Linked DNA regions of Homo sapiens: region 2 is linked to region 1. Evidence: fine-mapped QTL for protein levels in blood plasma. A gene starts in region 1. The other region holds a variant in brackets. All regions are shown on one strand. Distances are from middle to middle. Region 1 holds the start of CD6 (CD6 molecule). Region 2 overlaps CD6 (CD6 molecule).

The links. A credible set is the group of variants that fine-mapping cannot tell apart. PIP is the chance, under the fine-mapping model, that this variant and not a neighbour inherited with it causes the effect. The UK Biobank Pharma Proteomics Project read protein levels with antibody pairs (Olink). The fine-mapping took linkage between variants from a reference panel, not from the people measured, so its PIPs are less certain.
Region 2: its variant is the best candidate, but not a certain one, in a credible set for the plasma level of the CD6 protein (UK Biobank, PIP 0.76).

Annotation. Positions count from the first base shown.
Region 1 is chr11:60,967,647-60,972,947 of GRCh38, forward strand. CD6 (CD6 molecule) reads left to right here and starts at 4,034. Exons shown (of 13, transcript NM_006725.5): 1 at 4,034-4,268. The coding sequence starts at 4,220.
Region 2 is chr11:61,013,015-61,018,387 of GRCh38, forward strand. CD6 (CD6 molecule) reads left to right here. Exons shown (of 13, transcript NM_006725.5): 7 at 409-549; 8 at 905-1,000; 9 at 2,699-2,821; 10 at 4,465-4,536; 11 at 4,745-4,999; 12 at 5,275-5,373. Among named protein-coding and RNA genes, the nearest start is that of LINC02954, 40 kb to the right of the region's middle. RefSeq lists an enhancer at 1-580. The variant C/T (reference allele first, on the strand shown) is at 2,622.

The sequences.
Region 1 (5,301 bases):
TCAAATGCTAGTCAATATTTTGCCCTCCCACCAAATAATAGACCTTTCCCACTCTGATCACTCCTCACCAATTTGTTATTGTTTTATGGTTCTTTAGTTTTATCTCATTTTTTTTTTCTTTTTTAATTTTTTTTTCTTTTTTTTTTTGAGACAGAGTCTCGCTCTGTCGCCCAGGCTGGAGTGCAGTGGTGCAGTCTTGGCTCGCTGCAACCTCCACCTCCCAGTTTCAAGTGATTCTCCTGCCTCAGCCTCCTGCATAGCTGGGACTACAGATGCGAGCCACCACGCCTGGCTAATTTTTGTATTTTTAGTAGAGATGGGGTTTAGCCGTTTTGGCCAAGCTGTTCTCAAACTCATGACCTCAAGTGATCCAACCACCTCAGCCTCCCAAAGTGCTGGGATTACAGGCATGAGCCACCATGTCCAGCCTATTTCATTTTTTTCTAACTCCACAAAGTGGACATTTTTGTAATTATTTTATGCTATCAGTGCTTATTAAATCCACTTCTGTGTTTACATATTTCTTTGCTCACCATTCTTACTTGAATCTTAGACTTTTTTTTCTGAGATTATTTTTCTTGTTTTTGAAGAACATCCTTTAGAATTCCCTTAGGTGAGAGTCTGTTAGCTATAAATGCTCTCAATTTTCATCTGAAAATGTGTCTTTTAAACCTTATACTTGAAAGATAGTCAAGGTTGACAGTTATTTTTTTATTAGTACTTTGAGATGTTGTTCCATCGCCTTCTGGCTTTAGTTATTGGTATTGACATATTAGCTGCCCATCTACTTCATCATTCATCCATCTTCTGTCTAGTGATCAGCAGTTTTGCTACCAAAAATGTTTGGTGTAGATTTCTTTTTATTTATCATGCTTGGGTTGGGGGAGCTTCCAGAATCTGAGGATTGTGTCTTTCATCAAGTCTAGAAATTTTCCATTTTCTTCTAGAACTCTAATTAGACATATTTAAATCCTTGTTCCTTGTCTATGTCTCTTAGCCTCTTTCATATTTTCCACCACTTTGTCCTCCTGTGCTCCATCCTGGGTAAATTCTTCAAATCTATTGTTCACCCCAGTAGTTGTCTCTTCAGCCATATTAATCTGCTGTTTATTTTTATGTATGTATTTATTTATTTATTTTTGAGACAGAGTCTCACTCTCACCCAGGCCGGAGTGCAGTGGCACAATCTCGACTCACTGCAATCTCTGCCTCCTGGGTTCAAGCAATTCTTGTGCTACAGCCTCCTGAGTAGCTGGGACTACAGGCATGTGCCACCTCACCTGGCTAATTTTTGTATTTTTAATAGAGACAGGGTTTCACTGTGTTAGCCAGGCTAGTCTTGAACTCCTGGCCTCAAGCCATCAGACTGCCTTAGCTTCCCAAAGTGCTGAGCCTTAATCTACTGTTTAATCTGTACACTGGGCTTCTATTTTCAAAAATTATGTTTTTACATAACTGCTTGCTTTTTTTCCCTCAATCTTCCTGGTCACTTTAAATAGTCTCTTGTTCCTTATCTATACTTTCAATTACCAACTTTTAATTCTTGAAGCATATGAAACATCCTTATTTTATATTATATATACTGCAATTCCAACATCTGAGATGTGTTCGAAGGTCTGCATTTTTAGTTTATTGCTTGGTGCTCCTCTCACCTAAAGCACCTTGTGTCCTGTGTTTTATGATTTTTCTGTTTTACAAACATGTGAACTCATGTTCCATGGGAGTTTTTCTGTGGGATTTCTTTGAGTCATGAATATAGGATGAGTTACTCCAGAGACAATTTTTATCATTTGTTTCTGCCACGTGCCTAAGGAGCTATTATTTACCTTACTTTAAATTCTTATCTTATCTTTTTGTTTGTTTGTTTTTTGTGTGGTTGTTTTTGCCACAAAGTCACCATGAGTTTCACCTCCAGGCCTATTAGTGGGTAGACTTGTGGTGAGGGGCATTCAGGGTTGACATTTATTTTTCTCCCACTCAGAGTCCATACTGAGTTGGGCAAGCTCTGTGTCAGCTCGCTTTAAGGAATTTTTCTCTCCGAGTTCTCCACTGTGGATGTTGTATTTCAGTGCTCTTTGTTTAAGGCAGAAATTTTGGATTTTGTTTTTCACTTCGATTTTGTTTCTCAGCTTTAACTTTTGTCCATGTTCATAAGACTGAAGCTCTTGGTCAACTGGATCAACAGATACTTCTCTGCTGGCTGTGATCTCTTTGGATTTTTGTTGTCTTTATATATTAACATATACAAGGTCTCACTCTGTTGCCCAGGCTGGAGTACAGCAGTGCAATCTTGGCTTATTAAAGCCTTGACCTCCTGGGCTCAAGCGATCCTCCCACCTCAGCCTCCTGAGTAGCTGAGACCGCAGGTGTGTGCCACCAAACCTGGCTAATTTTTTGCACCTTTTGCAGAGAGAGGGTTTCACCATGTTGCCCAGGCTTATTGTCGTTTTTGATCTCTGATGATTTTCTTCATTTCTCACCACCTCAGCTACACATTTTAAAAGATGGTTTACAATATTTTTGTGGTGTTTTGTATTAGGAGAATTCTTCAGCATCTGCTGTCTACCATATTGTCAGAAATGGAGTCTAGCCATCCTTCCCGGCCCATTTCAAACGGGTTCCTCTTAGGACCAGGAGACCTCACATTATGTGTGTCCTACCTTGGCCTGTGGTTTGGTCACTTGTGTGTGTGTGAACTTCATCCTCCTTGAGGGCAGGAATATGGTTTCCTCTCTTTCACTTCCACAGAGTCCTGTCCAGAGTTCTGCACACCAAGACTGTGTAAATGAATGGAATTGCATCTGGGAGCTCGAGGCACCCATGCAAACCTGTGCTGCCAGTGACTTCCACCAGAGGGCAGCGGCAGCAGGTGCCGGCGCTGGGGCAGGACTGGGAGGAGTCTCACTCTGGGGGCGCCTGGTTCCCCGTGGCTCTAATACTTGCCGCATCAAATGCATACACCCACATTTAGGACCGAACCCAATGGAGGAGGACCGCTCCTCATTCCACATGTTGGGGAAATGAAGACAAGCAAGGATGCAGGAAGTGGAGGGCCAGGAGAGGTGGACCTGGGATGGGACCAATTGAGGCAGGGCCAGGATTTGGAACCAAACCCCTTCTGGATTTGACCACTTCCAGGGCCCTGCTTGGACAACCAAATTATCTATTCCTTTTCTCATTCAATAAACATTTATTCACCTCCTACCATATGCTCCACAGGGAGTACCATGGGAATTAAACACGCTTGGCCCCTGCCTTCTTCCTATAGCGTCAGTCTGCTGCAGTGCAATGGGGCAACTCGGGGTTTCTCAGGCAGCCCTGGGCTTCCTTCCTTCAGCCCTTTGCTCCTGCTATTCCTTCTGGCCCAGAGGCCTCCCATGATTGCTGTTTGTCAAAATCCTGCTCAGCCTTGTAGACCCAGCTCCCATGCCTGACTCCCACGGAGGCATGCCCAGTCTGGTACCTGGAGATGGGATAGCTGGCCCCACTGTGCCATCTGACGGGGCGGCTCCCACAAGGCCTTGGCACCCTTCCCTGTAGAAGGACTTGTGGGATGGCCATCTCTCAGGCCCTTCCCAATTTATATTTCTCTGAGGGGAGACTTAGGCTCTTATCTCCAAAAGTGCATCAAGACCACACCCTCCTTCCCAACCACCATTGCACCTAAGGTTAAGATAAAACTCAGGATTTAATCCAAGAGAGCCAAATTACACGGACCGGGACAGGCAATGGGTCATTCACTCCCTCTTCCAATATGTACTGATTGAGCAGCTACTACATTATCAATTTTTTCTTCTGGGCCACCAGAAATGAGGCATGGCTCTTCCACTTCCCTTCTTCTTAGAAGACCCTCGGGGAAGTGTGTCTGCATGGATGCGTGTGCATGCGTGTGTCTGGCTCCGTGACTCTTGGGGTGCAGCCTGGATGGGTGGGCTCCCAGCACAGGCAGCTGGGGCTCTCCCCACCAGCCCCTGTAACAGCAGCCCAGCTTCCTGCAGACCAAAACCACAAGCAGAACAAGCAGGCGTGAGACACTCACAGGTTGGGTTTGATCGCATGCGTGTCGGAGAGGAGAGAGCAGAGAGAGACACAGGAACAAGAACAGCAAAGGGTAGAGCAGACCTGCGCCAGGGGCGCACAACGGCCGTGTCCACCTCCCGGCCCCAAGATGGTGCTTCCCACAGGCAGCCACGCGTAGCAGCCAGAGACAGCTCCAGACATGTGGCTCTTCTTCGGGATCACTGGATTGCTGACGGCAGCCCTCTCAGGTAGGCCCCCTTCCCTCATCTCCTGCCACTGGTGCTGGAGGAGCCGGGTCCGGCCCTCTCAGTCCCCTTTCTGGTTGTTTCCTTGTGGTCACTTTTCTAGGATCTTTTAGCCAAGACTACACTCAGGTACCAGGGAGGTCCAGCATCTGGGGCTAGGAGAGGACACAGGAGCCCCTCGAGGGGCTGGGGCTGTGCCTGGAAGCCTCCTGGAGTGACAGAATGTGGGAAGCATGCTTTGTGCCTTACCAATGGGTCCCTAGGGTGTGAGGAGGGAGGTGCCTCTCCCATCCTTAAGCTCAGGAACTCCCCCATTTCCTATTTCTTGCCAACTCTTAAGAAGGAACCGTTCACCTTCCAGAGAGGCAGGACCACTGATGGTGGTACTTTCAACGCCAAAGCTGAGGCTTGGGGTCCAGCAGGCGTAGGCCAATCACAGGAGAGCACCTCCCGAAACAGGACTCAGGGAAGCCAGGGAGAGTTCTGGACAACCAGGCGCTGATGGCCTCAGCACAACCAGCTGGGGTAGTCTAGGGCATAAGCGAGCATGAAGGCCACCCCCACGTCTCAAGCTGCCCCCAAGTGTCAAGGCACCTGGCCACCTGGGCCAGGGAATCAGATGGCCAGAAGGTTTGGGGCACTAGACTGTGCTCCCCAGATACTTGCTGGCCCCTGTTGAGTGCAGGGTCCAAGCTGGCCAGAGCGGGGCAGGGGCCTGGAGATGCAAGAGATCCTGACCCCATCGAGCTCTCACATTTTGGGATTTGGGAAGACTGGTATGGAAACAGAATTCGGGCCAGGGGAGTCTGGGTCCACCTTGCAGCCAGAGAGCCAAGTGCTTTCATTTTGTGATGGAGGAGACCCAGGAAGACCCAGTCAGGAGGGGGCATCGAGCTGGTTTGGAGGACTGGGTACATGTCGCGAGACTCTGGGCAGGGAGTGCTCTCCTCTCTGCCTTGATCTCCAGGCATGTGTTCCGAGCCTGTGGCCTCATACTGGTTCAGGGAAAGCCATTCGGCTCTGGGAACTGGAGTTT
Region 2 (5,373 bases), 45 kb after region 1:
ACTTATTGATCTCTCCGCTAGACAAAGCCCCTCAAGGCCTGTGATACTGTTGTCTTATGTGTAGCCCCAGGGTCTAGGGCCAGGCACACAGCGGGTACTCAATAGTTGTCTATTGAACAAAGACTACATACTGAAGAGCTAGCAGACAGATAGATCTCTGCAGCCTGGTGGCCAGAGTTCTATTTCAGGCAGTAATTCATTTAATCAATTGCTCATGCATTCAATATGCATTTATTGAGCGCCTAATATACACCACACACTTAAAAGCAATGAGAAAATTGGAAAAAGGAAGCAAGGAGGAAGATAACATAAAAAGGGAAGCAGGTCAGCTTTACAGAGAATGGAAAGGCAAGAAGAAGGGTGAGTGCCCATTCCTCTTTCTTCCTGAATTGGAATTCTTGTTTCCAGAATCTTCTGTGACAGTGAAAATAGAGAACAAGGAATCTCGGGAGCTAATGCTCCTCATCCCCTCCATCGTTCTGGGAATTCTCCTCCTTGGCTCCCTCATCTTCATAGCCTTCATCCTCTTGAGAATTAAAGGAAAATATGGTAAGTGCAAGGTTCTGGGAGCCATGGCCATCCCAGGGGGATGTGAGCCTTGGCAGAACCCCAGCAGCAGTGGCGTGGTCCAGCAATGACCACCCGGCCCTGGCCCTGGGGAGATCCCCAAGGTGGAAAGGATTTTCCCAGCATGCCCAGCAGTCATGGACGCACCAGCGGGGAGAACCAGACTGTGCATGTGTGTGTGTGCCTGTGTTTGTGTGTGTGTTTGTGCGCGCGCACATGTGCCTGCAAGTGTTGGGGGAATGAGGAGGGTGGTGTGTCGATGAGAACAGAACGGAACCAGGTAGACTGGGAGAGGGCAAAAAAATGACTTGTAGAATTTCTGCCTCCCCTCCCTCAGCCCTCCCCGTAATGGTGAACCACCAGCACCTACCCACCACCATCCCGGCAGGGAGCAATAGCTATCAACCGGTCCCCATCACCATCCCCAAAGAAGGTAGGATGTCCCCCATCCTGGGTGTGGGAGGGCTGGGGAGGACAAGAAGGGTGAGCTTTCTGGAAGGTCAGCACCACTTAGGTCCAAGACGTACACACAGCTGGAGATGAGATCTGGGCCAGCCCACTCCCGGCCCTGGGACCTTGAGCAGGCTCAAGTCGTCCCTGGACATTGAAGGGCAGATGACCTTCCAGTTCAGTCATGCTAGGACTCTATAGAGTTTTGAGTTCTGGACAAATACAGGCAAAGCACGTTTTAGATCTTGGTTCTCAGAGGAAAGCTCTGTTCTGCTTTGCTCTGCTAGTTGGCTAGTAGGCTTGTGATATCATCATCCCTATCAATGTCCTGCCCAATTGGCCTTGCGAAGCCCCATCAAGATTCTCCTAGAATGTGGTTTTATTTCATAGTTCATATTTTCTAAACAAAAAAACAAATTGGGGCTGGGTACAGTGGCTCACGCCTGTAATCCCAGCACTTTGGGAACCTGAGGTGGGCAGATCACTTGAGGTCAGGAGTTGGAGACCAGCCTGGCCAACATGGTGAAACCCTGTCTCTACAAAAAATGCAAAAATTAGACAGGTGTGGTGGCGTGCACCTGTAATCCCAGCTACTTGGGAAGCTGAGGCAGGAGAATCGCTTGAACCTGGGAGGCGGAGGTTGCAGTGAGCCGAGATCACGCCACTGCACTCCAGCCTGGGCGACAGAGCAAGACTCTGTCTCAAAAAAAAAAAAAAAGAAAAGGTTCAGTCATTCATCCTTTATGATATATGGATTTATACCTCTTGCAGAGGAATTTGAGCTTAATCACCTTGCATTATGAATGTATTCAATCACCTTTATCGGAAAGAGTTCAATGACATAAAAACCAATACAAAACTCAGCCAAATATTATAAATATCCTTTGCACAGAGAGTCCATATATATGAAAAGAGAATGTGAATACAGCATCTAGCATAAGGCTTAGCATAAGGCAGCTGCTCACTGAATAGCACAGTCTAGAGGTTTAGAGCCAGACTGCCGGCTCTGGGCCAGGTAAGAACCTGTCTGTGCCTCAGTTCCCTCCAAGGCAAAATGGGGATAATAATGTACCCACTTCACAGAGTTATCATGAGGGTTAAATGAGGTAATACTTGTAAGTGTTAGAATAGTGCCTCACATATAGTAAGTGCTGTGTTAAGCGTTTGCTAAATAAATGTTTAGTTCTCCATATTGGAAATGAACGAAGGCAGCCTAGAAACTTCAGACTGGGTGGCTTGTACAAGATGGGCTACCCAGGTTGGGCACACTGGTGGATGCCTGTAGTCCCCGCATTTTGGGAGGCCGAGGGGGATGGATCGCTTGAGCCCAGGAGTTTGAGAACAGCCTGGGCAACATGGTGAAAACCTGTCTCTACAAAAAATTCAAAAATTAGCTGGGCGTGATGGTGCATGCCTGTGGTCCCAGCTACTCGGGAGGCTGAGGTGGGAGGATCGCCTGAGCCCAGGAGGTCAATGCTGCAGTGAGCTGTGATGGCACCACTGTACTCCAGCCTGGACAACAGAGTGAGACCCTGTCCCAGAAAAGAAAGAAAAAAAAAGGGGGCTACTTGGTGCTCCCCTGCTACTCTGCCTCTCACCTCTGC[C/T]GTTCATACTCTACCATCCCTCCCTACACCTTTCCGCCCACCACTTTGCCATGCCCTCGACTCTGTTCTCTCCCCAGTTTTCATGCTGCCCATCCAGGTCCAGGCCCCGCCCCCTGAGGACTCAGACTCTGGCTCGGACTCAGACTATGAGCACTATGACTTCAGCGCCCAGCCTCCTGTGGCCCTGACCACCTTCTACAGTGAGTGCCTGGCCGGGCTCCCGAGGGCCCACCTACCTGAATCTGGGAGGGGGCCCCGAGGGGACCGTCAGGTCAGTAGTCCCACCTAGTAACCCCTGCATGATGCAGACAGAATCCCCCTGGTTACCCACTGGATTGACTGTAAATGGTCCTACACTGACGTTTGCACCGTGCTTTGTGACCCTGGGGTCATCTCGATGTCTCAGGACATCTCCACTCTGACCTCTGTCTCTCCCATGTTTGTCTCTGGCCACGTAAGGTCTTAAGACCAGGCCTTTGACATTCACCTGAAGATGGCTCTCTGTGTGAGAGCGGGGGAGTGCGGATGAGAGACACAGTTGGCAGGGGTTCTCGCATGCCATATCCCTCCGTGTCCCATCCTGCCCTGTCTGACCCCATCAGCCCCACTCACTTCCTCACCTCCACGCTCTTGCCAGCTTGTGCCTCATAGCCAGCTCTTTTCATTGCCTTCTGGGGATAGGAAGAGGAAAGATAACGCTGAAGGCAGTTCCCTGGCAATGCTGGGAGGTTGGAATAGACCAGAGCGTCCCACACCTTATTGTGGAATCACTTGGGAGCTTGTCAAAAATTCCTGAGCCCCTCCCCACACCTAATGTTATCAGTCAGGATGAGAATTTGGCTGTGTGTGACAGAAAGCTCCAAATGACAGTGTCTTGAGAGGTTGGCAGGGGCCCAGGCCCCTTCTTTCTTGCTGCTGTGCAGTCCCTAAGATGTTGCCTTCATCTACATGGTCCAGAATGGCTCACCTCCATGTCCACATTCCAGGCAAGGGCAAGGGAACGATGGGATGCTGGAGATGGCCACAGATTCCCGCTCACAACCCAGCACCCAGAACGAAAACCCACTAGCTGCAAGAGAGGCAGGGAAACGAAGGCTCTGTCCTGGGCAGCTGTGTCCAGATAAAAGCCAGAATGGATATTGGGGAACAGACAGCCGTCCCTGCCCCGCCTGCTAACCCAGGGCTTCTGGGGGTGGGACACGGATGATTCCACTTCTTCTGGCCTGTGGACCAGTGTTTGGGCGCCACAGGGATGAAGTGTCTGTCGAACCTGAGATTCCGAGCCCAGGCATATAAGATGCAAGACTGAGAGTCCACAGTGCTATAACATTGAAATTAAAAGTCAGTGGTACCCGGTTCAAAAGAGCTGACTCCAAGATCCCAGACACTCATATCCTCAAGACTCTATAAATCTCTGATTCTGAAACGTGAAGGTGCCACAGAGCCTGTGATGCAGTGATTCCAGACCATCTGGGTTTCACTCTAGGAAGGCTTCTTGAAGGAGCAAACATCTGTCCTTCTCCTGCCCAGAGCTGCCAGGTCACAAGGACAGAACCAAGACTCTTGATACCTCTCTAAGTAGCAGGAGGGACAGCTGGGGCTGGGGGCTGGGGGGTTGTAGGGCACTAGAGTTTCTGTCCCCAGGCTAGATTAAGGCGAAGGCTCTGCTGGATTGGGATATGAACCTGGAATTTGATGGGAAATGCTAAGCCCTCTCTGCCTCCGGAGTTGTCCTCCCACCCTATTCAGCCTACCCAGGCCCCGGGAAATCCAGCCTCTTCTCCAGGCTCCTAAATGATGAGGTTGAGCCTTCACCCCTCCCCACCACCGCCTCTGCTTGCAGATTCCCAGCGGCATCGGGTCACAGATGAGGAGGTCCAGCAAAGCAGGTTCCAGATGCCACCCTTGGAGGAAGGTGAGTCAGGATGGGAAGGGGTGTGAATGGCAGTCCCACCTCCAGAGAGTAGCTCAGCTCAGCTTGAGACCTTCCAGCAGGAACCTCCCTCAATGAGTCTTTCCTGACTTTCACAAATCCTATAGGCAGTAAGTGCTTTCTGAAGTCTGACTTAAAGCCCTCTTGCTGCACTGCTTCTTTCGTCACCATTCTCCCTTTCCTGCCTTAGGACTTGAAGAGTTGCATGCCTCCCACATCCCAACTGCCAACCCTGGACACTGCATTACAGACCCGCCATCCCTGGGCCCTCAGTATCACCCGAGGAGCAACAGTGAGTCGAGCACCTCTTCAGGGGAGGATTACTGCAATAGTCCCAAAAGCAAGCTGCCTCCATGGAACCCCCAGGTGTTTTCTTCAGAGAGGAGTTCCTTCCTGGAGCAGCCCCCAAACTTGGAGCTGGCCGGCACCCAGCCAGCCTTTTCAGGTAAGCTGTGCCTCCCCCAAACCCCCATCCCATAGCCAGCCTGGCTGGAGGAGGCATAAAGCTGGGAGCCCTGAGTCAGGCTGAGGTCAGGATTCTACCCAGTTCCGCAGCCATTCGCTGTGTGCCCTTGGACACATCTCCCATCTCTGGGCCTTCACTTTGTCATTTGCCAAGCTAGGGACTTGGCTCTCGTGAGTCACGTGGGCCCCCCAGCTCTGGCAACTTGAGAAGTGGCTGTGTGCTGGCAGAGGGTGACTGGTTCTGGGGGTTTCCAGCAGGGCCCCCGGCTGATGACAGCTCCAGCACCTCATCCGGGGAGTGGTACCAGAACTTCCAGCCACCACCCCAGCCCCCTTCGGAGGAGCAGTTTGGCT